Regions from separate parts of the Homo sapiens genome. Here regions 1, 2 and 3 are each linked to region 4. The links come from fine-mapping of genetic effects on plasma protein levels. Region 4 holds a variant in brackets. A gene starts in each other region. All regions are shown on their reverse strands.

Region 1 (8,105 bases), not on the chromosome of region 4:
ATGCTGGCTCCATAAAATCAAGTCTGTACAGGAGGCTTATTACTGATATTTAGTAGTAACGACTAACATCCAACTTTCTTTGCTTAGTTTCATCTGTGCTCAGGGCAGCTCAGTGAGGTGGAAGGCCAGTTAATCACTAGTTTCATTTTACAGATGAAGAAACTGAAGATCAGGGAGCTAAATGACTTGCCAAAAGTCACCCAGTTATTGAGGTCTGCACACAGTAAACGTCTTATAAACTAGGAATGCACGGTACCGTGGAGATAATTAGAAACTTAGACCCATCCTGTAGCCAAGAGACGCTAATCTTAATTATAATCTTTCTTTAAAATCAAGCCAATCTGGAGGAAAAAAAGATATAATAAACGGTGAATGAGACCTTTGCGGACGTCCACACCATTACAGTAGGTTAATAACAAGAAGAAAACAATAGTTTTAATCCATGTCTCAAAAATAACTACGGATGGTTAATGTTTAGGATCTCTACCAATATCACATTAGAGTTCAGAAAATCTGAGACCCATGCTTGGGAACCAGGTCTTACTCTTATTTAGGGAAGGGAGCCGAGGTTCTGCCGCTTTTGCTGGGCAAGAGCGCGGTTCGGGTGTACAGAAACAGCCTCACGTGGCTAGCTGGTGCCTCATGCAGTGGGTAGGTTTCCCGTGGCGAGCGGTAGCGCTGACCGCCGGCCAGAGAGCGATGAGCACCTGCAGAATCCTGGGGGCGGGGAGCCCGGCAGGAGACCGCGAGCACCCGCACGCCGCCAGCCACACCGGGCCGACCAGACAGCGCCCCTCTGTGGCGCAGCCTCCAATTCTGGAGGTCCCAGCTCCCGGAGGGGCCAGTGGGGACAATCAGGACCAGGCGGTTTATTGCAGTGGTCCCTCAAAGCTAGCGGGAGGCGGACACGCGTCGAGCACTGCCCCCACCGTCTCGCTTTTGGCCCCCTGCTTTGCATCGCGGCACAGAAACTTTCCCTGCCCGGGACGCGTCCCCACCTCCGTGCTCCCCCTCCCAGCTCACCGAGGACCCCCGGTGCGACGAGAGCCAAGAAAACCCCGAGCAGGCCCGCGGCGCCCATGCCACGGCCGAAGCCCCCGCGGCGGGATGCGTTCCGAGACCCGCGAGCGTCCGGCAGCTCTGGGAGGGCAAGGCTGGAGCAGCAAGCAGCTGTGAGCCAGGAGAGGCGGGCCCTTAAATAGTGTCCGGCACACGTGCTAGTTCTGAGCGCACACCTGCAGGCGGCCTGGGGGCTGACGCGGCGCCGGTGAGGGTGGGACAAGCGGGAGGGACGGCCCGGCACGAGGTGGGCGGGGAGCTCTGAGCCACTCTTTGGCTCAGACTCACCCCTCGTTGCGGTGGCTTCCCCACTTTTTTGACCACGCAACCCACTACACTCACTTGTTTCTCTTACTAGAACTTAAACAAAACTTTCACAAGTTAGTACTCACCCTTAGTAATCTACAATGTTCGTCCTCTGTGCCATGCTGTGTTATGCTAGACTAGGCTAGGCTATCCTATTCTTATTAGAAATCCACCAAACTCATTTCAAAACCTATTAGTGGATTCATCTCCCAGTTTGAAAAAGCAGTGTAAGTTTACTTAGGGAATTTAGGAACAGCAGCCACTTCTGCTCTGTTCTTTATTTTGAAGTAATCTCTACAGAAAAGTTTCAAGAGTACTGCAGAGAATTCCCATATACTTGTCACCCAGATTCTCTGCATGTTAACATTTTGCTGTATTTTCTTTACCATTCTCTATTCTTTCTCTATAGACATATATGTACATATATGTGATTATATAATTATAATTATATAATTATTACTTTGGAACCATCTAGCATTTATTCCTATTCTAAATGGTTCACTAAGGACTTTCTGTTCCATAACTAGAGTGCAATGATCAAAAATAAGAACTTAACATTGACACAAGACTATAAGCTACCATCTGTATTTAAATTTTGACAATCATCTCAATAACCTGTGTTATGGTAAAAACAATAACAACAATAGAAACCAACCTTTGTTTTTCCTGGTCCAGAATCATTTCAGGATCATGTATTGTGTTTGATCATTATGCCTTCCCCCCACCCCCAGTTCTTTATTCTGGAAAAATGTCCTCAGCATTTTTGGTATTGCATGACCTTTACATTTTTGACGAATACACCACAATTATTTTTGGAGAATGACTTTTAAGTCCGTTATCTATTATAATAACAAATTACCCTGAAGGTAGTGGTGTAAAGCAAGAATAAACATTTATGATCTCACAGTTTCTGTGGGTCGGTCAGGTGGTTCTGGCTTGGGATCGCTCAGGAGATTGCAGTTAAGACACCAGCTGGAGGTGCAGTCATCTGAAGGGTTAACTGGGATAGGCGAATCCACATCTAAGATGGCTCACTTACCAGCCTTTGGCTGGAAGCTTCATTCTTCACCACGTGGATTTTGCCATAGGGCTCGCTGCTTGTGTGTTGAGTGTCCTCGTGACATGCCAGCTAGCGTCTCTGAGAACAAGAAAGAAGAAGCCATAATGTCCTTTGTGACCTGTCCTCAGAAATCACAATATGTTAACTCCAGAATATCCAATTGATTGTACAGATCAGCCCTTTTCAGTGTAGGAGGGCAGTATACGTGGATGGTAATGTCAGGAGACAGGATCACACCCCACAATTTGGATTTGTCTATCATTTCTTCATGATAGATTCAGGTTATTGAATCTAATTATTTGACAGGAATACCAGAAAGGATGTCTTATCCTTACGGGGAGGCATATGTTGTCTATTTGTCCTATTACTGGTGGTGGTAACTTTGATCACTTAGTTAAGATGGTGCCTGCCATGTTTCTTAGTGTAGACTCAGTATTTTTCCCTTTGTAATTAATAAGTATTTTATAGGGAGATACTTTAAAACTATGTAAATTCCTCATTTTTTCATCAAATTTTTACCCACAAATTTTAGCGTCTATTGATGATCCTTTCTTGAATCAATTTTTACTATGATGGTTGTCAAAGGGTGTTTTTTCCTAATTTAATAATTACTTCTATATTCATCTGTTGGCATTTTACTGTAAATAAAAGTTTTCCCTTCTCTATTTATTTATTCATTTATCTATATCAGCATAAACTATATCAATATGAATTTTATTTATTTACTCAATGGGTCATAATTCATGGCTACCATTATTTATTTTGATGCTTAAATTCTCCCTGATCGGGCCAGTGGGAGCCCTCAAAATAGTTCCTATGTCATTTTGACTTGTTCTTATTGTTCTTTGAGCACTTCCTTACTTTCTGGCACACACACAAAAAAAAATGCTCCAGACTCACCTCTAGACCTGACACTGGAATTTGCTGTTTCTCCAAGGAATGCTGGTTCTTTCTGGCAGAGAATGGCATTTAGATGCCAGAATTGGATGCTAAGTGTGTTCATTTTTATTGGAGTATCATTGTTTCCGCACCCTCTCAGCAGACAGAGCAAGGATATGTATTATATATATATATGTATATCCATTCCCATATCTATATTTATATATGTCATGAATTCACAGTGATTCTTCCAATTTCAGTCCGTTAGCATAGAGTTCATTCTGTCCTTCCCTCTTTCTGCATGTGTAACTCCCTTCTTCAACAGTGAGACACCTAGATCCACAATATATTTACTTATTTGCTTAATCCTAGAATACACAGAAAGAAGTTTAAAATTGCTATTTCTATACTATGATGGAAATCAAATCTACTCGTTTTTAAAGTTTTATTTTGTTTATAGCCCGAAAATATAAAAACAGCATTGTTGTGTTCCAAAGTTACTCAGATTATTCCCCCTCTTCAGTGTGATTGTTATTCATTCAAAATACTGTTAATTTGTTTCTCTTTGTATTCTATTTTAGTTTCCCCTCAATCTTTTTGATTTTTTTTTGCTTAAATAAAACATTAACGTAGTCCCAAATGTCAGATTGATATAAAAAGACACAATAAAAGGGAAATGTCACTTCTCTCCATCACCTCTATCCTCTCCACCATAGGTACTCAATTTCAGTAGTTTCTGGTTTGTCCTTAGTTTTGCTCAAATGAGCTGCTACACATTTGTCTTCTTAGTTCTCCTTTTTTATTACATTTTAAAAGCATGCTATAGGTATTCTTTTGCACATTTCTTTTTTAACTTAACAAATATGCTGGAATCCACTATTTCCTACAAATTCAAATATTCCTCATTCATTTTTACAGTTGCATGCAATACTTCACTGTGTGGATATGCCATAGTTTATTCAACCATCTCCCTATGTATGGACAGTTTGGTTGTTTTTAATGCTCTAAAGAGTAACTTTGTGAATATTTATTTTTCTGCTGTTAGAAGCATGTCTTCAGTTCAAATTCCTAGAAGTGGGATTGCTGGGTCAAATGGTAAACACATATGTAGGTTTGTTAGATATTGCCAAATTTCCTTAATAAGAGTTGTACCACATATATTCCTACAAAACTGTGTGAGAGCACCTCATTAATCTAATGTGCTGTCATCATGGTTTTAAATTTTAGTCAGTCTAATAAATGAGACATTTTATCTCAGTGTAGCTTTAATTTGCATTCCCTATGAGTAACGCTGAACATTTATAAAATATATTTTTATCATGTATATTTGCCTTTTCCTCTCTCAATGTTTGAGACTTATTTATATATATTAGGATTGTTATTCTGGATGTGTTTTGCAAATGTTTCCTCCCAGTTTGTCAGTTGTCTTTTGACTTTGTTTATGGCATCGTTTTGCCTTGTAAGCATTGTCTGTTTTAATGCAGTCAAGTTGATAAATCTTTTCTTTTATTGCATCTGGATTAGGAGCCATGGTTTTAAAAACCATTCTCCAGGTTACACAATAATTCATCCATGTTTTCTTCTTGCACGTGTATTGTTTCATTTATTTTACAGTTAGATTCATGATTCTTTTCATGCTTATTCTTGTCTGCCCTCATAAATTTCCCAAATATATTTTTATTAATAAACACTTCTCAGCAACACAAAAACTCAACTCCTCTGTAGATGAGTGTGTTGGTGTCTAGTATCTTGCAGTGATCCTGTTTACATGTTTGTCAGGAAAAAAGAAATCACTGCCTTCTGCTCCAAACCCTCCAATAATTTCCTATCTCATTCAAAGTAGAAGGCAATGTCATAACTATGATCCATTCAGTCCAATGTGATCTGCTTTCCTTTAACTTCTCTGAGTTCATCTTTGACCCTTTTCTCCTTCTTTTCTCCCTCTGGCCACAATGGCCTTTGCTGCTCTAGTATTCTTTGCACTCTGACTGGGGTCCTTTGCCCTCGGAGGGTCTTGTTTGCTCTGTCCAGATTGTTTTTCTCCTGAATAGCCCCAGTGGCCAGCTCCCTCATTTCATTCTAGTCTTTACTCGAAGATACCTTCTCAGTGAGATCTTTCCTAGATATCCTCTTACACTTTTACCTCCCTTTCCATTCATATCCCCTTCTTTGGTCTATTTTTCTTCTCTTACTACTTAGCTCCATTGAACACATTATATATTTTACAATGACCTCATTTGTGTTTGTCTCTCTTACAATGTAAGATCCATGAAGGAAATATTTTGTTTTTTTGTCTGTCTGTTTCTCTATGTTCGAGCCCCCTAGTTCCATGAATATTGCCTGATCCATGGTAGACACTTCATAGAAATTTTTTGAATGAATAAATACACAAATCTCATGAGAAAATGGGGATTCTGCACAGAGTTTTCATCCTGTAATATGCTTAAGACATTAGACATACATCAAAAGGATTTTGTAGTTGTTTATAATAAACAAAATCCAGAGTACATACATGTTGGTGCCAATGGGGACAATTTTGAAAAAAAGGTAAATGGAACTAAAATTGGAGCAGTGATTTGTAGGTGTACACAAAGGAGGTTGTCCTGTGTTAATTTTTACTACAATTGACTAAGCTTTATATGCAGGGAGTTGCACAAGGTAGGCAATTTGACTTAAGATACTTGAATTAAGCCGAGTGCTGTTGTGGTCCTCTGGCTTCTAACTGAAGGAAACACATTCTTCTTCAGAGGAACCATCCTTCAGTTTTTTTGTATTGTTTTGTTAGAGACAGTATCTTGCTGTGTTGCCCAGGCTGGAGTGCAGTATCACTATCATAGCTCACTGCAGCCTCGAACTCCTGGGCTCAAGTGATCCTCTTGCCTCACCACAGTAGCTGGGACTACAGGCACATGCCACCATGCATGGCTATTTTTAAAGATTTCTGTAGAGACAGGGTTTCCCTTGTTGCCCAGGCTGGTCTCAAACTCCTGGCCTCAAGCAATCCTCCTGCCATGTCCTCAAAGTGCTAGGATTACAAAGATAGTTTTCAACAGATTAAAATCTACCACAAACATAAACTCATAAAAGATTTGGCCGGGTGCAGTGGCTCACGGCTGTAATCCCAGCACTTTGGGAGGCCCAGGCGGGCGGATCATGAGGTCAGGAGATCGAGACCATCCAGGATAACACGGTGAAATACCATCTCTACTAAAAATACAAAAAATTAGCCGGGCATGGTGGCGGGCTCCTGTAGTCCCAGCTACTTGGGAGGCTGAGGCAGGAGAATGGCGTGAAGCCGGGAGGCGGAGCTTGCAGTGAGCCGAGATTGCACCACTGCACTCCAGCCTGGGCGACAGAGCAAGACTGCATCTCAAAAAAAAAAAAAAAAAAAAAAAGATTTAATAAAATTTAACCGATTTTTAAAAGCCCTTTAAACTACAGAGAAATAGAAAAGAGTTCCCTTAGCCCTATAAAGATATTTGCAAAAAATACCTGCAGCAAATATCTTTCCTTATGGTAAAATATTAGAAGCATTTTGTTTTAAACTGAGCTCATTTTAAATCTTAAGAAGAGGATGCTTACTAAAAGTGCGTAATAGGAATAAATCTAACAGAATAGTTGAAGAATCTTTATGGAGAAAATTATAACATTTTATTCAGGTAAAGTGAATGTGACCTAAATAAATCAAGAAATAAGCACATTCATGTATAGGACAACTTGATTAAAAAATATATGAGCTCTCTACAAACTGATCAAATGTATAGTCAATGCAATTTTTGTCAAAATTTAACATTTTTAAAGGAACCTGACAATGTCGTTCTAAAATACATCATAGCAAAGGGACACAAACAGTAAAAGTGACACTTCCTGATACTTGTTCTAGTAGGTATCAAGACCTAAATTCTTAATATTTAGGATAGTGTGGTATTGATGAATGAGTAGAAAAATAGATTAATAAGAAAAAAGAGAAAGACCTCATATATAGAAAGTAGCTTCATGGCATGGGTAGTGCTGAAGATTGCTGGTGAAAGATGAGAGAGACTATTCAACAAATAATTTGGGGACAATTCATTACATATAATGGAATAATAAAATCAATCCAAACCTCATACATATTAATTCTATTCCCAATGGATGATGGCTTAAACATGAAAGGTAAGACATTAAAAAATGTAGAAGAACCTATATATGAGAGTACTTTTATGACCTTGGGGTAAGGAAATATTTCTTATAATAGACATGAAAATGCAAATGATAAAGGAAAAGTTTGATGGATTCAAGTATATTAACACTAAAAACTTCATTTGTTAAAATATATTATTACAAGAGCACAACCACATGACTTACATAAGACATAAGTCATCTGCAATACATATAACTAAAAAGGAGACTGTTATGTAGAACATGTGAAGAACTGCTACATACCCATAGGAACGATATACCAATTAAAATGGGTAAAAGAATGGAATTCTATTTTCAGTAATGTTATGTCCTAGGTTAACTGGATGAATTATTCCACTGAAAACAACCCTAAGTGCTGAAATACGTGTGTGTGTGTGTGTGTGTGTATGTGTGTGTGTGTGTGTGTTTAGATCGATCTATCTATCCTATCTGTCCATCCATCCTGCCTATCTATCTATATATCTATCTATCTATCATCTATCTAGATATCCCTATAAATATATATAATCAGAATGTATAAGAGAAATTATTAGGGCAACATAAAAGAGAAAGTGGAAATCTACTAGGTCATTTTAGGGGTGTGGGAGAATTTGAGCTTTGATTCTTGTAGAATTTCGGG
Region 2 (7,765 bases), not on the chromosome of region 4:
AAATAAAATATAATTGTACTTAACATATACAGCATTTGTATGTATTTAATATAATGTGTGAATTTGAGTATGTAAAATTTTAAATTTGTTTTTACATTCGTTTTTTCATTTTTCTAAAAGTTCCAAAAGTATTAGAATTAAAAACAAATTATAGTGGATAAATATCAAATATTTAAAACTTATTTTTATTAAAGAACTGAGATTTTTAATCTTTTGAAATTTAAATTGTTTTAAATATTTTTATAAAAATTGAAATTGTCATTCTGGGTCTCAGTCCTAGGTGATTCTAGTAAAGAATTAATGCTGCAGTTCTTATTCTACATATTACATATGTGCATATTCAAGAATAATATGAATTGTTTAATATTACAAAGTCTTCCTCAGACTTTGTGCATAACTGCTGTGAATTCCATGGCAATATACAAGAACTTCCAAAACCACCAAGTGGGCCATAAATTGGATCAAGCAAGTGGATAACCAGCCTGAGCAACATGGCAAAACCCCTTTCTACAAAAAAATATAAAACTTAGCTGGGCAAGGTGGTGCGCACCTGTAGTCCCAGTTACTCGGGAGGCTGAGGCAGAAGAATCCCTTGAACCCTGGAGGCAGAAGCTGCAGTGAGCCAAGATTGCACCACTGCACTACAGCCTGGGTGACAGAGTGAGACCCTGTCTCAAAAAAAAAAAAAAAAAGGATACTTGGGACTGTAGGGAAATACCACTGTCTGTGATATTCTTGCATAATAATAGATTATACAAGAATCTGTTACACCCTTGGTATCTGAGATGGATTTGACAAATCTACTTGCCTTTTGTCTGCCTGGTACTTCTATGGCTCACACCCTCCCTGCCGTTCTTGGAGGCAACAGCACAGCTCACAACTCTCACAGCACGGTGTCACCCTCAAATGGAGTTTCAAGGACATGGATCCAGGGATGTGGGGGAGTCTTCACCCAGGCCTGGCAGTGTGGGTCCAGAGAGCAGATGGAGCCGAGTTAATGCATCCCTATGCCAGCACCGTGCGCCAGACACCCAGTCACAGACGCAGCTCTGTGTTCATTGTGTTTGTGTGTTTGTGTCTCTGCTCTGGACAGAACATACTTAACAGCGTATTTGGATTGATGAACAATTTCTAAATATTTGGACACATGGTAAGCAGGCCTCTGTTTGTACTCTTGTCCTGGGGACTGCACAGTGTTGGGGGTGGTCTGAAGTTGGAGACAACTATTGATAAGCCTTAGCATATGAGTGGATGCCACCTGGAGAAAGGGCAGAACAAGGAGGAAAGGTGAGCAAAGTCGATGGCTGCTGACACCCGCCTCTCCTTATGATTCGTACTTCCTTCTCCTTACTCTGCCTCCTTCCTCTTTGATTTCCTGCTCATTTTCTTTGTTCCAAGTTTAAAAACAATTTACTCCTTCCCAGGCCTCAGAACACCTACTGACATCACAAGCACCAGGTATGTCTAATAGTGACTACTAGTTTGGGTGTTTGGAGTAGGGGTGGCGACACTGAATCTTGAAAGAATAGATCTTTCAGGCAGAAAACAAGTGTAAACAGTGAATATCCCACGGAAGAGATTCCCTCTAAGATGCGCCCTGGAAGGGCGGAAGAATATTTTATAGGAAGCTTATTTTGAGGGCTTTCTCTTTCTAAATGTCTCCTTTATCCTGTTTAGAATTGTTGGGCCTTCATGCTATTTAGCCTCAAAGTATTTAGCTGCTTGAGATATTCAAGATTAGACCTATAGTCAATCAAAATGAAATAAAATCTATTTCTTGGTTTATTTATTTATTTATTTTTTTTTTATTTTATTTATTTATTTATTTTTTTGAGATGGAGTCTCGCCCTGTCGCCCAGGCTGGAGTGCAGTGGCACGATCTGGGCTCACTGCAAGCTCCGTGTCCCGGGTTCACGCCATTCTCCTGCCTCAGCCTCCAGAGTAGCTGGGACTACAGGCACCTGCCACAACGCCTTGCTAATTTTTTTTTGTATTTTTAGTAGAGATGGGGTTTCACCATGTTAGCCAGGATGGTCTCGATCTCCTGACCTTGTGATCCTCCCACCTCAGCCTCCCAAAGTGCTGGGATTATAGGCATGAGCCACTGCACCCGGCCTATTTCTTGGTTTAGAATGAGATGCTTAGGATGTGATGAAACAGATTATTAATACTGCTTAGGATGGATGAAACATATTATTAATATTATTAATACTGCTAAAGTGTTGCTGTCTTGTCGGGGTCATCTCTGATTTAGTTTGAGATGGTTTTATGGAATAGAAAAAGCTTTTGTTGCATTTGAAAGATTACAGGGCTACAATGGATAAAGCAATATGATACATGTTATAAAGCAAATGAAAATTATACCAAAAGAGTATTACACCTTTGGCTAGCTTAGATAGTATGTATATCTGGTTAACTATATAATTTGACTTAGCTTACTACGATGATTTTATACCACACAAAAATGCATGCAGTAACATGAATTCTTTTTTTTTTTTTTTTTGAGACAGTCTAGTTTTGTTGCTCAGGCTGGAGTGCACAGGTGCAAACATGGCTGACTGCAACCTCGACCTCCCAGGCTCAAGCAATCCTCCCATCCCAGCCTCCCAAGTAGTTAGAACCACAGGCACATGCCACCACACCCAGCTAATTTTTGTATTTTTTGTAGAGACAGGGTCTGGGCATCTTGTCCAGGTCATCTTGAACTCTTGGGCTCAAGCGATCCTCCTGCCTCAGCCTCCCTAAGTGCTGAGATTACAGGTGTGAGCCACTGTTCCCAGCCATGAATTTTTTAAACGCCTGAGTAAAGTTGAGCATAGCCTTCAGTAGCAGAATTCTGAAGTGGTTGACTTTGTTTAACTGTGGGCTGGCAAAACTAATGTTGAGACTCTTTTAGCTCAGTAAAGACTCTTATGTTACTGGCATAAAAGCCTGAAATAGTGAGCTAATTACTGTGCTGGGAAACTAAATATGTCACTTTCAGAGGAAGTAATGTCTCTGCCTACAGAATGTCCAAAACGTAGACTAGTGAGTAGCATTTAGTTAAATGAAATATGGCCCAGTTAAATGTCACACTGCAATGTTAAACAGAGTACCACATGTAAACAAGGAGATTACTTGGTTAGATGGTGACTTTCAAAGTGTTAGGAGGGGATCAGCAGTCCGATTTTTATGGTGTGACACTCTCACATTCAGCCAATTTCTGCCAAAGTGGGGCAAGGAGGGATCCCACAGATGTCACAGGTAAGATAACTCTCAGATGACCGTCAGTATTTGGGAACACATTTTGCAGGCAGCTCATGCGTTTTTCTCCTTTTCTGTCATGACTTGCCCTGTGGTGGCTCTACTGATGGTCAGTGTGGGAGGCAGGGAAGGAACATTTCAAACCAGTAAGTCTGATCATAGCAATTCCTACTTTCTTGAGAACTATGTGCCAAGCATTGAGCTAAGTATTTCATGCTCATCGTCTCATTTAATCCTCACTCACGAGGAAGATGTATGGTGTCACTGCACCTGTAAGATGTGCTTGCAAAAACAGAGTTAGGGAGGTTGAGAAATTTGCTCAAGATTACACAACTGAGGCAGGAGAATGGGGAACATGAGGCGTGAGAGAGCAAAGGGAATAAAAATCACTGGGAACCGGTAACCCCCCTCACCCCCGAGAGTGGCCAGGGAGAGAGAGGCTGCCTGAGGGAAGGAAGCTCGGCAGGACCCGCTGCAGACCCAGGGCCAAGGGAAGTCCCGCGGGAGGAAACGCGGGCGCGGTGGGGCTGGCTCCAGGCACGCGGGCCAAGGGCGGGAGGGTCGGACACGAAGCCACAAGGCTCCTTTCCTTCCTCCTCCTTCCCGTCTGCCTTCTTCTGCTTCTGCGGCCTGATCTCCGAGTCCCTCTGCCTGCAGGCGGCGGCAGAACGTCCGCATCTGTCCGCATCTCAGCGCTGTCCCCCAACCGAGTCGCGCCGCGTTTTCCTCTTCTGTCGGGAGAGCTCGTGCTGGGAACCGCGGGGCAGGAGGACGGCCCAAGCTACTCTCGATGTCCTTCCCCAGCCCACGCCTGCCCCAGCCACAGTTCCCCTGGTTTTCCTGAGGTTCTCCAGCTGCTCAATGATGGGCAGGTTCATCTACAGCCTGGAGCAGCCGCCTCCTCCTCCTCCTCCTCCTCCTCCTCCTCCTCCAGAAACACCCCTTTTTCCTTCTCCTCATTCTTCCTTCTCATTCTTTCTCCTCCTCACTCTTCCTTCTCCTCATTCTTCCGTCTCATTCTTTCTCCTCCTCATTCTTCCTTCTCCTCTTCCTCTTCCCCTTCTCTTTCTGTTCTTTTCTTCTTCCTCCTCCTCCTCCTTTTCTCTTTATTTTTCTCCTCCTCCTCCTCTTCTCCCTCTTCTTTCTCCTTATACTCCTCCTCTCCTCTTACTGTACTTTTTTTTCCTTCTGCTTTCTCTGCCCTCCTCTTCCTCTTCTTCTTCTTCTTCTTCTTTTTTTTTTTTTTTTTGTGGCTGGAGTGCAGTGGCGCAATCTCGGCTCACTGCAACCTCTACTTCCCAGGTTCAAGCGATTCTCCTGCCTCAGCCTCAGTAGCTGGGATTAAAGGGGTCCACCGCCACCATTCCCTGCTAATTTTTGTAATTTTAGTAGAGACAGGTTTTTGCCATGTTGGACAGTCTAGTGTCAAACTCCTGACCTCAGATGATCCATCCACCTCGGCCTCCCAAGTGTTGGGATTACAGGCATGAGTCACCGCGCCTGGTCTCTTTCTCCTTTTTTTTTTTTTAAAGAAAAATTGAAATCATGGTTTTCTAAAAATCCCTCCTAGCTCTCAGCTTCACCGAACCACGTCCTGGTCATTGACTTGCCGTGTGACTGCTGTGCTTCCCCTGTTTCCATTTCCCTCCATTTCTCCCTCCTTCCTCCCTCTGTCACCCATGCCCGGAGGAGCACGATAAGGGACCAGGCCGACCTGGGTTCCAACCCTGCCTGCTCCCTGTCCTGTTGACGCTCTAATTCCACTTGCAGCCCCACTTTCCTCATTTGCATAGTGTTCTCCCAGTAACAACAGCAGTCATACCAAGTTCTAGGGTTCTTTCGAGGATAGTGTGTATTCACCGCAGTGCATCTCTGATGCCTGGCACATCGGCTGTGCTCAAGTAATGGCAGCTATTGCATTACAGTGACTATGGAGTTAGGGGACCGCATATGGCAAAATGCTGATCACTGTTTTGAATTTGGTTTCATTCCTCTAATCTCAAATCCAGTGTTTTAAGGACATGCTAAATGCTTTGTCCTGGAGAGCTATCTTAAGGGACAAAATCGTTTTCCCAGCGTCATCTGTGACACATCCTGACAGTAGAGAGCTGCTTCCAAGAAGCAATTTGAAGTGCCATTATCAGGCAGGGACGGGGGCTCTAGGGGATTTCGGGGTCAGCAGATATGAAATGAATGATTTCATAGGGCTGTCACAGAGCTGTGGTGGGAATTTCCCATGAGACCCCGCCCCTGGCTGAGTCACCGCACTCCTGTGTTTGACCTGAAGTCCTCTCGAGCTGCAGAAGCCTGAAGACCAAGGAGTGGAAAGTTCTCCGGCAGCCCTGAGATCTCAAGGTCTGTCCATCTGGGGGAGTGGGTGGGGGCACTGAGAAGGGGTGAGATTGGAACTTTTGCTCCCTTTGCCCATTTCTAGACTTTTTCTCCTAATATGTAATAACTTCTCTTCAATAGCCCTTTAAATAAACATCAATAACTTAGCCTGAAGAGTTTTTCACTCCTTAGTTTTGTTACCATACAAACTTCACATCTCAAAACATGTCTCTGTTTAAGAAAATGTGTTAGTGAGTTGAACAGGGAGGTCTTTCCACATGTTAGTAGTTAGGTGTTCAGCTAAAGGGGGAAGAGTGATTATGTGATAGCTTCTTCTTGAACTGAATTGTCTGATGCCCCTGACAGATTCTCTTTGTAAGGAGTTTATTTCAGGGGCAATAAGTAATTGGCATTATTGCTGGTTGGTACTGCAAAGTACCTATGAAAGTCCCCAAAAGTTCTTGCTATTGTTATTTCTGCATTTTGGCAGAACATGATGGAAAATGCACCCTCAAACTTTGGCAAACCGGCACAAAGCTGTGTGTTTAATCACGCCTGCCTTGTCCTAGTGGTTTCTATGAATCTGCTACTTTTCCGTAATATTGCATCATTAATTGTTCCTGAAAAACCCTGAGTTATCCTCTTATAGAATTGTATAAGTAATGATTGCAATATAGATAATTTTGAAAGGAGAAACCACCTTTCCTTGGAAATGTTTATCTTTTGCAGAGTGACATTTGTGAGACCAGCTAATTTGATTAAAATTCTCTTGGAATCAGCTTTGCTAGTATCATACCTGTGCCAGATTTCATCATGGGAAACAGCTGTTACAACATAGTAGCCACTCTGTTGCTGGTCCTCAACTTTGAGAGGACAAGATCATTGCAGGATCCTTGTAGTAACTGCCCAGCTGGTGAGTACCCAGTTATCATGTGCATTTGATCTGCTCTGTTGGAAGTATGGTTCAGTTAGTCTAGTAGTCAGGGCTAACGAGCTCCCTTTTAAGGAAAGGAAAATGAAAATTCATTCATTTACAAATGTTTATTGGATGCTACAACCTAGCTGTGTGAACACAGCAAAGTCATTCAACCTCTTGTGCCTTGACTTTCTCATCTGGGGATAATAAGAGAACCTGTTTTATAGGATGGCTGGGAGGATCAAATGAAGGGCTTAGAACAGTGCATGGCACAAGGCAAGACTTCAATAAATGTTAGTTTTGTGTGTAGGGCTTTGTGCTCCGACTGGGGGCATAGCAGCGAGTAAGCGCGTAGTAAAGGGCTTAACAGAGTGGGGACGGTCAGTCGCATTTAAATTTTAGTGTAGGACATTGATGTCCTCCTGGATCCAGTCATATTCATCTCCTACATCAATCAAGATAATCATTTTGTTTTATTCAATAGATAAAGTATTTTCTTTCTGTTGATTTATTTGTTACAATATCTGGTTTTTTTGTTTTTTTTGTGTGTGTATGTTTTTTTTTTTTTTTTTGAGACACAGTCTCACTCTGTCGCCCAGGCTGGAGTGCAGTGGCACGATCTCAGCTCACTGCAACCTTGGCCTCCCAGGTTCAAGCAATTCTCCTGCCTCAGCCTCCCGAGTAGCTGGGATTACAGGTGTGCACCACTGCGCCTGGCTAATTTTTGTATTTTTAGTAGAGACAGGATTTCACCATGTTGGCCAAGCTGGTCTTGAACTGCTGACCTCAGGTGATCTGCCCGCTTCGGCCTCCCAAAGTGCTGTGATTACAGGCGTGAGCCACTGCACCTGGCCTGTATTTTGTTATTTCTAATTCTGTGATTACACAAAGAATAATCTTGCAAATGTATTGTTTTAGGAAGTCAATCAAACTAATGTCCACCACTGTGGCATCTAGAAAACTCATCATTCTTTTATAATCTTATTTTATTGTAAACTTCGGAATGCCTTGGGTGACGATTGCCCATTGTCAAACGTGTACCACTATTGTCTGCCTTTCTTAGGTACATTCTGTGATAATAACAGGAATCAGATTTGCAGTCCCTGTCCTCCAAATAGTTTCTCCAGCGCAGGTGGACAAAGGACCTGTGACATATGCAGGCAGTGTAAAGGTATGAGTTCAAAGATATTTTCTTCTTCTAGAAGATAGTTGGGAAGATAAGCTTTTCTTTCCCATTTACTAACTGCTCTCTTTTGAAAATCTCAAGTGTCAAAG
Region 3 (4,000 bases), not on the chromosome of region 4:
CTTCTGGAGAGTACACGAGGAGTGGGTTAGAAAAGGCACACTCAAGTAGATGTAATAGTATCATGTTATGTTCAAGTTCTTTTTTTTTTTTTTTTTTTTTTTTTTTTTTTTTGAGACGGAGTCTCGCTCTGTCACCCAGGCTGGAGTGCAGTGGCGCGATCTCGGCTCACTGCAAGCTCCGCCTCCCGGGTTCACGCCATTCTCCTGCCTCAGCCTCCCGCGCAGCTGGGACTACAGGCGCCCGCCACCACGCCCGGCTAATTTTTTGTGTTTTTTAGTAGAGACGGGGTTTCACTGTGTTAGCCAGGATGGTCTCGATCTCCTGACCTCGTGATCCGCCCGCCTTATGTTCAAGTTCTTAAAACAGTCTGGGGATAGGCTCATGGCTTTTCATTTCATCGTAGTATTTCATAATTTATATTCATGTTACTTTTTTGTATGCATGCATGAACTATCACATTATAAAAATAAAAGTGTGAGAGAGCTTAACAAATAAAATGTTATAGCCTTTATATCTGTGGAGGAGGAAACACATTTTAATCTGAACATCTTGTGAAGGCACTGGAGCAGGACACACAGGAAGAGATGTGATGAGAATCAACCTAAGACCCCAACAACAGATGAATCCATAAAGAAAATGTGGTGTATATATACAACGGAATACCATTCAGCCATACAAAATGAAATCCTGTCATTTGTGACAACATGATGAAGCTGGAGGACATCATGTTAAGTGAACCAAGCCAGACACAGAAAGACAAATACCACATGAACTTACTTATATGTGGAATCTGAAAAAAATAAGAAGTTGATATTATGGAAGTATAGCATAGAATAGCATCTATCAGAGACTGAGGAGGGAATGAGGAGGGAAGAGAGGGAAAGATTGGTCAACAGGTACAAGGTGCCAATTCGATAGGAGGAATAAGGTTTGGTGTTTTATTGCACAGTAGGGTAACTATGGTTACTAGTAAGGTATTATATATTACAAAATAGCTAGGAAAGAGGCTTTTGAATGTTCTCACCACATAGAAATGAAAACTGCACGAGACAATGGATATGCCAACCACCCTGATTTGATCATCACTGTACAACATATATATGTATTATATTGCAATGTCAAACTGTGCCCCATAAATATGTACAATTACAATGTGTCAATTAAAACATTAAAAAAACCAACAGATTAAAAGAAAAAGAGAGAGATGAAACAGCAGAGTGTATGCAAAAACAGCTTTACACCCTGGATTTAAAGGGCTCTACATTCTCATTCAGGAGATTTTTTTGCATTGGTCCTGAAACTTTACACTAAACAAGCTTATCCCCACACAGGCTTTCCTAAGCCAATAAATAAAGCTATGGAATACCTATTCGTTTTCAGCACTTTCGCTGTTAGCCTGGTTACCAACATTGCTCCCTTTTCCCTCTGGTTTTGCGTATCACTGAATAGTTTCTTTTCTCAGTCATACTCATTGAGCTGGATACCTGGACTTAGACATCATTGCCTGACAGCATCTTTCCCCTAATAGGTTACTTTCCACACATTCTAGTTATTCTTAATCCTAGACACTCACGGATTTAAGAAATGTTGAAAATTAAGATAGCTTATTCTCCTCCAATCCCTAATCTAGGCTTCACTTGCCTAGAACTGGTATCCCTAATGTGCTAAAGGTAGCAATGGGAGAGATTATAGGTGCCCTGATTTTGAGGGAAAAGAGGGGCAATTTTACAAATGCCAGAGTTAGTACTAATGGTGAACCCTTCTCAAGTGCCCTGAAGCTAATTTGCATATACTTCTTTTCTGTATTTCATTTTCAAATATCCCCCAGATTGTAATTTGCCGTGATTTTATTTTTCAGTGATTTCATGCTCATTTACTGGTACACTGAAAGTTTGAATATCAAAGCGTATATCTGTATGAATAGGTTGACCCTGTACATAAGTCATCATATGCAGCAAGGGTCAGACACTACACATAACCGGGGTGACAGCCCCATCAGTCCCTGATTTAATGACATGTTTGCATAATATGACTATACTAGAGAAAGTTTGCATAGTGGGACTATATTGCTGAGCAAGAAGAATGTGCCAATTAGAAACAATCCAGGAGACATCCCTATCAAAGGTGAAAAGTATTGTAGATGTATCAAAGATGAATTTCAGCAGGACCATAACCTGATGAGACTCATCAAAGTAGGAAACTGCCTTTAGAAAACTTCCTTTGAAATACCTGAATTCTTGAAAAAGTCCCTCAAATATTGATGTGTACTATCTGCAGCTTGTGGAACTGAATCAAACTATATTTAAAAAGGAGCATCTTTAATTTTCTCAGACTTCATAGAAAAGGAAATGGAGACTGGTCACTAGAGGGTTCTTCTTCCTTCTACTTCTGCTGAAGGGTAACTTCCGATATCAACTTCCTCAAACCTCTGATGAGCTGCTGCTGCTCGACTCTGAGGTGCATTCTTTTTTTGATGAGAGGCATCTCTAGGTACCATCCCTGACCTGGTCCTCATGCTGCCGAGGCTGTTGCTGTTGATCTGTGGTGAGTTGGGCAACTCAGAGCAGGGCATGGGATGCAATCATGCTTGGGCTCTGCTTCCTGAAGGGCTGTAAGGACTTCTTAGGACTAAGGTTCTGTCAGGTAATGCTCAGGGGTGCTCAGATCTCCACTTCCACGGAGGGCTCAGAGTCAGGCAAAAAGTTGTAGATATTTCAAAAAGCCAGAGTTTTCAAGAAAACTATCATTTCAGTTTTTATCTCATAGGAAGTGTTCACTGTCTGTCTTCCTTTCCATCAATAATTGTCTTTGTTCTCAGTGTTTTCAACAGCTGCCAAAAGAAAAATCTGTATAATAAATAGGCCTCTGAATTCCTTGCCCTTCTTACTACCAACGTTATTTCCTTTTATCCCTCTCTGACTCCCCATTCCCACAGTCAAACCTTAGAACTTATCATCACTCCTTTGTTTTCAGCATACATCCCCCACCCCCACTAAGTTGTGTTTCTAGCTCACTTTCTCCTGCACTCTATTTCCAACATGACTTCAATTACCCCAGGGCTACTTTTCCATTATCAGTAACTACACTTCATGTGCTCACTTCTCATGGTGCTCAGCTCAGATTCTGCAGCTCACCACCACAACACTCCCTCGAGCACACCTTCATCTCTCTTCCCCCATAGCACTCTCCTGGTTTACACGCCCTTCTGCATGCTTCACTCCTGGACATAAACAGCTGAATGGGATTTTTTTTTAAATGCACAACCCTGATGACTTATCCCCTTTTAAGTGTAGGACCCCCAAATCTCAGGTAGCCAACAGCAATGCCAGGCAATTATCCTACATGTTCACAGTCCATGTTGCTCCATTATCACTATTGCATACCTTATCCTGTCACCTCATACTTCTCTGTTCACTCTCATTGTGTAATCTTGCTTCATATTTCATTGAGAAAATAAAAGCAGTCAGAAGAAAACTCTCTCATCTTTCTGTTGCTGTTGACCTACTCACCTCTGCATTCACATACACTGCCTTCTCTTCCCCTACCACGAATATATTGCCCCTCATCTTGTTGATGACAAGACTCTCCACTTGTGCATTAGGCCCATGACCCTCTTACTTTCTCAAAAAGTTTGCTCCATCATCAATATGTTTCTTCATTCTAAATTATTCCCATAAGTATACAAACATGCTACAGTATCTTTTATTAAAAACAGCTTTATTGAAATATTATTCACATATAATACAATTCACCATTTAAGTTATGCAATCCAATGGTTTTTTATGACAATCACTGAGTGGTGCAACTATCACCACAATCAATTTCAGAATGTTTTCATCACCCAAGAAAGAACGCCATACCCACTAGCAGGCATCCCCAATTTTTTTTCCAACGCCTCACCTATCCTCACCCCTCTATTTTCTGGCCACATGCAATCATTATCTACTTTCTGTCTCTCTATATTTGTCTATTCTGGACACACACCCCATATCTAACTGT
Region 4 (8,652 bases):
GCCCTCCCCTCCTTAACTCTCTAGCTTCATCTTCTACTTTCTCCATGGATCACTGCTGTCCAGGCATCCTGGGACCACTGTGCTCCACAAACACACTGAAGGGATTTTGCTTTCCATTTCCTCTCTCTCAAATACTCTTCCCCATAAATCTTACTGTATTAGTCCGTTTTCATGCTGCTGATAAAGACATACGCAAGACTGGGCAATTTACAAAAGAAAGGGTTTTAATTAGACTTACAGTTCCACATGGCTGAGGAAGCCTCACAATCATGGCAGAAGGCAAAGAGGAGCAAGTTACGTCTTACATGGATGGCAGCAGGCAAAGAGAGAGAGAGTGTGTGCAGAGGAACTCCTCTTTTTAAAATAATCAGGTCTCGAGAGACTAATTCACTATCACAAGAACAGCATGGGAAAGACCCACCTCCATGATTCAATTGTCTCTCATTCAATTATCTACCACAACACATGGGAATTCAAGATGAGATTTGGGTGGGGACACAGCAAAACCATATCACTTACATTACCCTCTCCATGCCCTTCTTCAGTGAGGCCTTCCCTGACTGAAGGCTGTATGACATAGTGCTGAGGTTGAAGGACTTACAAATAAAGGACCTGAGTTCACATCTTGCCTTGCCATTTACAGCAAACAGCCAATTTATGTAGACTCTGAGTTTATGAAATAAGTCTATGAAATAAACTGAGTTTATGAAATAACTCTCATCTATGAAATAAGGAAATTAATAGTGGCTTGATATTTTGGAGTTGCTGGAAAATTGAAATAAATTAACACCTAGAAGAGTCTCTCACACAATATAAATACCTAATAAATATTCGTGATTGTTATTAAAGTATGCACCACATCTTCTTCCAGTAATGCCTTATGTCTGCTACTTGATTGGACTCCATAGTATTTGTTACCATCTAGCAAACCATATGTTCTGCTTTTTTTTTTTTTTTTTTTGCCCCCTTCCCACTAAATAATTACCAGGAATATTGCCTCGTAAATATTAGACATTCAATAAATATTATTTGAATAAATGTTAAAATGTCTAGACCCTTCAGTATAATATAGAAGTGGTAATAATAATCCAGGGATAATTATCTTGTTCTGGTTGCCAAGTTCACAAGATTTTTAAAGTTTTCTTTATTCTCACTTTGCTAAAAGTGTTTACCATAGATAAATATTGAATTGTTCTTTCTTTCTTGGATTTACTGAGGTGATCATATGATATTCTCCTTTAATATTTTGTTATAATCACTTACATCTGTTATTAATATAAATTTTCGCATATGGATCAAATCTAACATGGTTATTATGCATGCTCTTTTTAAATACACTGCTGAGTTCAATTCGCTAATGTTTTAAGACATATTTATGAGTAAGATTGGCTTGTAATTTTTACTTGTAATTCTGCCTTCAGAATGTTTTGGTATCAAGATTATAGAGGAAAATACAAGTTGAACTTGGGAGTATTCTCTTTTTCTTGTTCTCTAAAATAATTTACATAATATAGAAGTAGTCTACCCCTTGAATATTTGAGAAAATTTTCCCATCTTGGCCTGACCATTTTTGTATGTGTAAATTGTAAACTACTTCAACGTCTCTAACGGATTCATTTTTGTCTCTTTTATACTGATCAGTTTTGTCAATTTATATTTATCTAGGAATTTGTCTCTCATCTAATTTGCTGAAGTTTTTTGACAAAACGTTTTTTTTTTCATTTTTCTCTTTGGCATCTATACTTTTCTCCCCATATTCAATTCTAATATTGTTTATGCTGGCTTGCTGTATTTTTGTTTGAAAATATTGATAATGAAATATTTCACAAGAAACTTTGAGGTTTAAATATGATAAAATAAAAATACTTTATTTTTATGATAAAAGTATCATTACGTTTGTTTATGTCTATATTTATATTTATTTACCTCTATATAAATTTTTTGGTCTTATTGACCTTTTTAATTACCTGCCTTTTCCAGTTTCTGAATTTCTGCTCTTATCCTTAATTGCTTTCTTCTATTCCTTTGGCTTAGGTTTTTTTGTTTATTTTGTTTTTACCTTGCTTTTGTTTTGTCTTGCTTTTGTTTTTTTCTTGCTGTTGGTGCTTAGTTCATAACTTTCAGTCATTTTTCTTATATAATATAAGCATTTAAGTTTATAAACTCTATGTATGCACTGATTTTCCTACACCCCAGGGTTTCTTGTGAAGTATTTTGTCATCTAGTTGTAAACATTTTCTAATTTCCATATGCTTTCTGTTTAAGCCATAAATTATTTAGAAGTAATTTCTCTCCACTTTAATTTCCACGTGCATATTTTCCTTACTTTTTAATCACCAATTTCTTTTACTAATGATGCTGTAGAGGAACTGTAATTGTTATAAAGCCAACTATTTAAAATGTGCTGAATCTTGCTTTATAACTTAGCATGTGGTCAGTCTTCAAAGGGTCTGTGCATTAGTTGCTGTATTAATGTTAGTGTCTTGACTTTTACCCTTGTGCTGTAAGATGTTAACACTAGGAATATAAGTGAAGAATATAAGGGGTTTCATTACACTTTTCTTTCCCATATTTTTAAAAGTCTGAAATTACTTCAAAACAAAAAGTCAAAAAGTTTTAAAAACATGTAAAGTGATTAACTCAACGGTAAAGAATTTCCTCCCTTCTCTTATATCTATAATCCCACCTGTTGTCTTCATCACCATCATCAAACCTCAAATGGTGAGGATTATGAATTCTCCACTGCACCTTTGATGTGGTTTGGCTGTGTCCCCACCCAAATCCCATCTTGAATTGTAGCTCCCATAATTCCCATGTGTTGTGGGAGGGACCTGGTGGGAGATAATTGAATCATGGGGACCGTTTCCCCCATATTGTCCTGTGGTAGTGATAAGTCTCATGAGATCTGATGGTTTTATAAGGGGTTTCCTCCTCCACTTGGCTCTCATTCACTCTTTGCCTGCCACCATGTAAGATGTGCCTTTTGCCTTCTACTGTGATTATGAGGCCTCCCCAGCTATGTGGATCTGTGAGTCCATTAAACCTTTTTTCTCTATAAATTACCCAATCTTGAGTAAGCCTTTATCAGCAGTGTGAAAACAGACTAATACAACCTTCTAATTACAGCAGAGTGGGGGTCGGGCCCAAGATGTAATGAGGTTGCTGCCAACAAGATTGCCCTCAATGATGCCTTTCGTGATCCCTACAAGATGCTTGTCCTGGTGGAATTTCACCACCTCATAGTCAGCTCCTTAGGAGAAGAATGCTTGGCCTGCTATTAGCTTTTCTCAGTTATACATCTACTTAATATTATAAGTAATATATAAATACTTGATATTATACCAATAATATATACTTAATATTGTACTAAAAATCTCACAAAATATACTGTACTGTTGGATAAATTCAACTCTAAAGGTAATAACATAATTGATGTCGGTTCTAAAAAGTTTAAAATTAGGTAGTTAGACAGATACAGATGTGAACAGATTCTTTTTCAGATATGGAACATACTCACATTTCCAAACTATCATATCCTAACACAAATTAATTTATCATGTTTCACCTGATTTTAAAAATAACATTTAATTATACAGCGAGAATTCAAAAGGTGGGTGTTGCTAGACAAACTCAGTCAGACAATGAGGCAAAAGGCAATGAATGTTTTTATTTGTTAATCCACATTAGCAGCAACACCAGAAAAATCATTAACCACCCCACCTAGCATTGAAACTGACTCCACTTATCGCTTCTTCTTTTTAAATTATAATGTAAAAATGAATTGCAAAATATATTTTATTTGAACTTACTGAAGTCAAAATCATAGGAACCAGATATTTAAATAAAGTTTAAATCTAAAGTTTATATTTTAAACATAAAATTTAAATCGTTTGTTTTGAAAAGTATATCCTTGAAAAGTATTTTGATATAGATGGGAAGATTTTCATAGACTGGCATCTATTTTTCCACCTACTGTTTAATGAAGTAAACTGTTGAATGATGTAAACTGTTAAATGAAGTAAACAGTTAAAACTGATGACATAAAAGACAAGCAAAGCGAAGGAAACATGTTATAAAAGATAAGTATT[A/T]CAGCATTCTTAAGTATGGTACTTTATAAAATGAAAACCGGGATGCTGTCTTCTGAGATATCAACATATTTATAAGGAGCACATGCTATGTGACATACTTCAGGATGCCAAGAATTTTAATTAAAACTCAACTTCTATAAAGTGAATATAAAGCTAATAAGAGGAATATTTTTAAAGGTTGGGATATGTAAACTACAATAGCAGCAGTTTGAAACAGAAGAGCAAGAAATAAAGGGAAATTACATTACATTAGTATGAATGTATTCAGTAACTTCTGTTGGAGATTATGTGTTATATATGCACAATTCTAGTTATTTTTCAATCAATGCTTTATAGGCATAAATTGAAATTACCTGATATTAAAAGTTTCTGAAATTCACTATAGAAAATACACATGAGCATAAACAAATGAGGATATTCTCTCTCTCCTGTGAAAAAAATGTGTGGGTAATATATTACATTACAGATAGAAATTGTATACTTGAAATAACCATAAAAGACTTAAATAGTATATGGATACTATTTTCAGCAAAATTGTTTCATATTTAAATTTAAACTTTTAGTTATTTTTTCATGTGTCTAATGCAAGATTTCTAAAATTTTCATTTTTTACTTTTTATAATGTTAACTGAAAAGGAGGGAGTGCATTTAACATAAAAACAGAAGATGAATCCTGAGATTTCTCATAAATGTCTTAATGTCCTAGAGATGTGGGCACTTGCTCCATAGTAAATTATGGATGCCACGTTTTACAAAATCCTTACTGCCCCTTTGAATTGTGTCCTTCCTCCAAGATAAGAAGCTATGACTCAATTGTTCAACATGGAATTATAATGAAAAGCCTTTCTAGTTCTATCTTTCCCTAAATGGGCTCTATTTCTTGTAATTCACATGACACTCTTTGGCTGTGGCTGTCTGTTAAATTTCCTGTTTTGGACTAGTTTCAGCAAACCAAAACAAATAGCTCACAGAAAAGGCAATGGTAACTACTTTTTTTTTTTTTTTTTTTTTTTTTTTTTTTGGTATTTTCAGTTAGATTCTTTCTTCTTAGAGGTACAGAGAAAGGGAGGAAAATAGCTACAGACATGGTGTAAGTAGGTCACAGCAGTTTCAATGCACCAAAAAATGTGACATCTCCATCCAGTGATATTTGTGCATTTTCTCTTGGTATTGCAAGTTGGAGTTCATCTCCTTCTTCCAGTTTTGCAATGCCTGGGAAAAAATGATTTACAAGAACTATAAGTGGTTATACAACAGAAAAGAAAAGAATCTTAAATAAAACTATTTTGTTCTGTAAAAAAAAAATGTTAACATAGGCATTCACACTTCAAAATACACCAACGGACTTCTAAACCATTGCAATTATCTTAGCCTAAAAAAAAATTTAGAAGAAATAAGCAAAAGGAGTTACAACAGATATGTATGCATTTATCACCTACTCATTAAAAAATGGACTTCCCCAAAAGAAGCCCAATATATAACTTTTTAAACAATTAGGTAAATCATGGAACATCCCTTGATAGAATATTAAATTATTAGTGATGAGTTTTGTTTAATTTTGTTGACAGGGAAAGTTTTTATAATAATGTTAAATAAAAATGTGAAAAATTACACACACATATATATACTAGATATTCCTAATTATAGTTTTAAACATACAAATGAAAAGCATAAATATTAAAAACTGAAGAAAACACCATTTCTTAACATACCACATTCATTAATATAGTTTTTCTTGAGAGTCCCGACTATGGATTTAAGCATTATCTGGATTACTTTTCACAACCTCTTATATTTTGTTTTCTTAGATGACCATGTTTGTCTTTATAATCAAAAACAACAGTGTAATTAACTCTTCAAAAATGACTAATAAATCTGTGTGCAACTAATTTACAAGGACAAATGCATCTGTGAATTAGTAATACAAAATACATTCAGGGACTACACTCAATGTATCAGGTAATTATTTACCCCACTTCAAAACAAAAATATGAAGAAGAAAGAGGAGGAAATGGGGGAAGAGAAGAAATAAAGAAACTAACAAACATTAAAACTGTCATCTGAATTGTCAATACTTGTGGCTATTTTTAGAATAGTTTCATTGTTTCATTAGCATAGTGAAAATGTACCTACATAAACACATGTATGTTCATGTCTATTCTAACCTAAAGCCCAAAGCATGCAAATTTGCTCAGGCAGCAGCCAGGGGGAGTTTATTTATTGAACATTTACTATGTACCAGCCACCCTTCTAGACAAACACACAGTAGTGATCAAGGATGACAGAATTTCCATCCCCACTGGGTATGCTTTTTTGTAATGGGCAAAGACAGAATACAAGCAAAAGAAAGTTTTTCAGGACTTATTAAAGGTTATGTGTACACTTTCTAGAATTGACAAAGCCTTTGAGGACTACCTTAAGTAGTAAGAATAAAAAGATTGAGATTTATTTGTTGAACAGACTTGTCATTTTCATAGAGATTGGAAATGACCTAACATTTTGACAAAGACCATAGCTCACAAAGCATTAAGTAATATTAACTCTAAGGATTAGGTGGGTGTGAACAACTATAGAGTCCATTTAACATTTTAACACTAAATTATCGGCTACTTCAATTCTTCCAGATTACAGCAATCAGGTATAATTTTTCTAATAAACATTTTATTAATACAATAAATAATAAGATTCAGCTTTAGGTATATAAGTGGTTCTTTGGTATTATGTTGGGTTTCTTAAGTTGGCCATTTACATCTTTTCAGGTTGCTATGGAAACATTTTATGTACTTATATATACTCTAATGTGTGGTTTTAAATGGCTTTAAATAAATTTGCCCTAAAACAGATTAAAATTGCAAACCTGAAACTTACTAGAGGATGGTACTCATATACAACAGTAAGCTACTAGTAATGAAAAATATTTTTAAAGTCCGGTGAATTATTCTTAAAAAGTAAGACACCTTAAGAAATCTAGCAGAGTCCTCTAACAGCAAGTAAGTGTTAGAGGAGCAGATGATTAGAAAAACGTTTTAAAGAGTTACTTGTAAAATTTTTAGTACTAATAAATATAAATAAATAACAGATTGGAGTAGTCTCACCATTTATAAATATTTTGCAACTCCAAACTACTAGTCAGCACTGGGTGAAGGGAAACATCTCTTTATGAAAGTTAGGGAATTCTAATTTTATAAACTTCCTCATCTCCCCACCAATGCTATCTGTGGCTGCAGATCCAGAATGACATCATTTCCATTATTAGAAACTATTTTCCTTAGTTTCTAACTGACTTATTGGGCATTTGTTTGTAAATGCCTTTGAAATACAGTTTTTCAAAATGCATAGCCAGCCTCCGTTCCTGTGTGTCACACGGTCATTCACGGTAACCATCTGGAACTGAAGCCATTCCTCAGGGTTCTGGATTTTTACAAAATCAACAGAGAAAATAAATGTGTTTAAGGTAAATATTTTTCTGCAAAACCAGCCTGGATTAATTTTAAATCACCCTTGAAAAATAAAATGAAGGAAATGTTGGCAATTACAGCTGAAACAGACCTAAAGTTTACAAGATCTGCCGTGCTCTCTGCCTCTCACTGCTCCTGGGTGCAAAGGTAGGTTTGCGCCTACACTTTCGCATTCCTAAGTCACCTGTCTGGTGTCCACTGACACAAGATGTCATCTGAATTGTCAATACTTGTGGCTATTTAGAAAGAAGCCATTGTACAACTTTCCCTTACCCTCAAACCTGGCCAGGGGCATTTCTCCTGTCTGGTGTCCACTGACACAAGATGTCACCTGTATTTAGAAAGAAGCCATTGTACAACTTTCCCTTACCCTCAAGCCTGGCCAGGGGCATTTCTTCCACAGCATGCAAGAAGAGTTTTGGTTGCTCCCGGTGCGGAGCCAGACTGGCTGGTTTAAACCAAGTCTAAAAATTAGCTGTGTAACCTGGGACAAGTTATGTTACTTCTCTGTGCCTAGATCCTAACTCCCTTAAATGCGAAGATTAAATAAGCAAGCATATATAACATGCAGAAAAGAGTGCCTGGCAAGTGGTAATCACTCTATCCTTGTCAGATATTATTATTGTTGTTATTAAGTGTTGAAGAAAATACATTAGAATTTTTTCTCAATGTAGAAGTTACTATGTAGAAGTACTATGTACCATGTATTATGTACAAGGTAGAAGTTGCTATGAAATTACTACCCTTTCTAAATGTATATAAAAATGGTAAAACTATTAGTAATAATTCCATCTTTCTCAATTAAAACAGACTAGCTTATTATTCAAGATTTAAAAAACACAATATATTGAGGAATGTCTTTCTGTCTATTTGTATTTTAGGGCACCATCCTTTCATTTTTGCATTTTGCAGCTCAGATTTTTCGTCAAAGTCTCTTCATTTCACAATTAGCAGGGTGTGAGAACTAATATTTACCAGCTGAATAGCAGGAATTATTGGGTAGTGTTTCAGGCATATTTTGAATACATCGAAACAAAGTCACCAGACTCAATTCATCCCCAAAGACATGGACCTTCTTCCTCTGAATTAGATGTCCCATGGCGTAG

Which allele goes with the higher level. Alleles are on the strand shown, and positions count from the first base shown. The strength of an association depends on the size of the effect and on how common the allele is.
In carriers of allele A in region 4, the plasma level of the protein whose gene starts at base 1,172 in region 1 tends to be lower than with T alone (weak association).
In carriers of allele A in region 4, the plasma level of the protein whose gene starts at base 5,543 in region 2 tends to be lower than with T alone (weak association).
With allele T in place of A in region 4, the plasma level of the protein whose gene starts at base 2,432 in region 3 is higher (weak association).

What was found. A credible set is the group of variants that fine-mapping cannot tell apart. PIP is the chance, under the fine-mapping model, that this variant and not a neighbour inherited with it causes the effect. Protein levels are from antibody-based Olink assays in UK Biobank. Linkage for the fine-mapping came from a reference panel and not from the study's own genotypes, which makes the PIPs less certain.
Region 1: it holds the start of CR2, and the variant in region 4 is the best candidate, but not a certain one, in a credible set for the plasma level of the CR2 protein (UK Biobank, PIP 0.70).
Region 2: it holds the start of TNFRSF9, and the variant in region 4 is the best candidate, but not a certain one, in a credible set for the plasma level of the TNFRSF9 protein (UK Biobank, PIP 0.60).
Region 3: FCRL1 starts here. The variant in region 4 is the best candidate, but not a certain one, in a credible set for the plasma level of the FCRL1 protein (UK Biobank, PIP 0.58).

Annotation. Positions count from the first base shown.
Region 1 is chr1:207,447,395-207,455,499 of GRCh38, reverse strand. CR2 (complement C3d receptor 2) reads right to left here and starts at 1,172. Exons shown (of 20, transcript NM_001006658.3): 1 at 1,024-1,172. The coding sequence starts at 1,081. RefSeq lists silencers at 614-723, 1,104-1,333.
Region 2 is chr1:7,938,617-7,946,381 of GRCh38, reverse strand. TNFRSF9 (TNF receptor superfamily member 9) reads left to right here and starts at 5,543. Exons shown (of 8, transcript NM_001561.6): 1 at 5,543-5,598; 2 at 6,304-6,487; 3 at 7,554-7,661. The coding sequence starts at 6,388. RefSeq lists a silencer at 3,700-3,839.
Region 3 is chr1:157,818,552-157,822,551 of GRCh38, reverse strand. FCRL1 (Fc receptor like 1) reads left to right here and starts at 2,432. Exons shown (of 11, transcript NM_052938.5): 1 at 2,432-2,545. The coding sequence starts at 2,515.
Region 4 is chr13:108,303,474-108,312,125 of GRCh38, reverse strand. TNFSF13B (TNF superfamily member 13b) reads right to left here. Exons shown (of 6, transcript NM_006573.5): 5 at 8,522-8,652; 6 at 3,648-5,300. The coding sequence ends at 5,188. Among named protein-coding and RNA genes, the nearest start is that of TNFSF13B, 38 kb to the right of the region's middle. The variant A/T (reference allele first, on the strand shown) is at 4,089.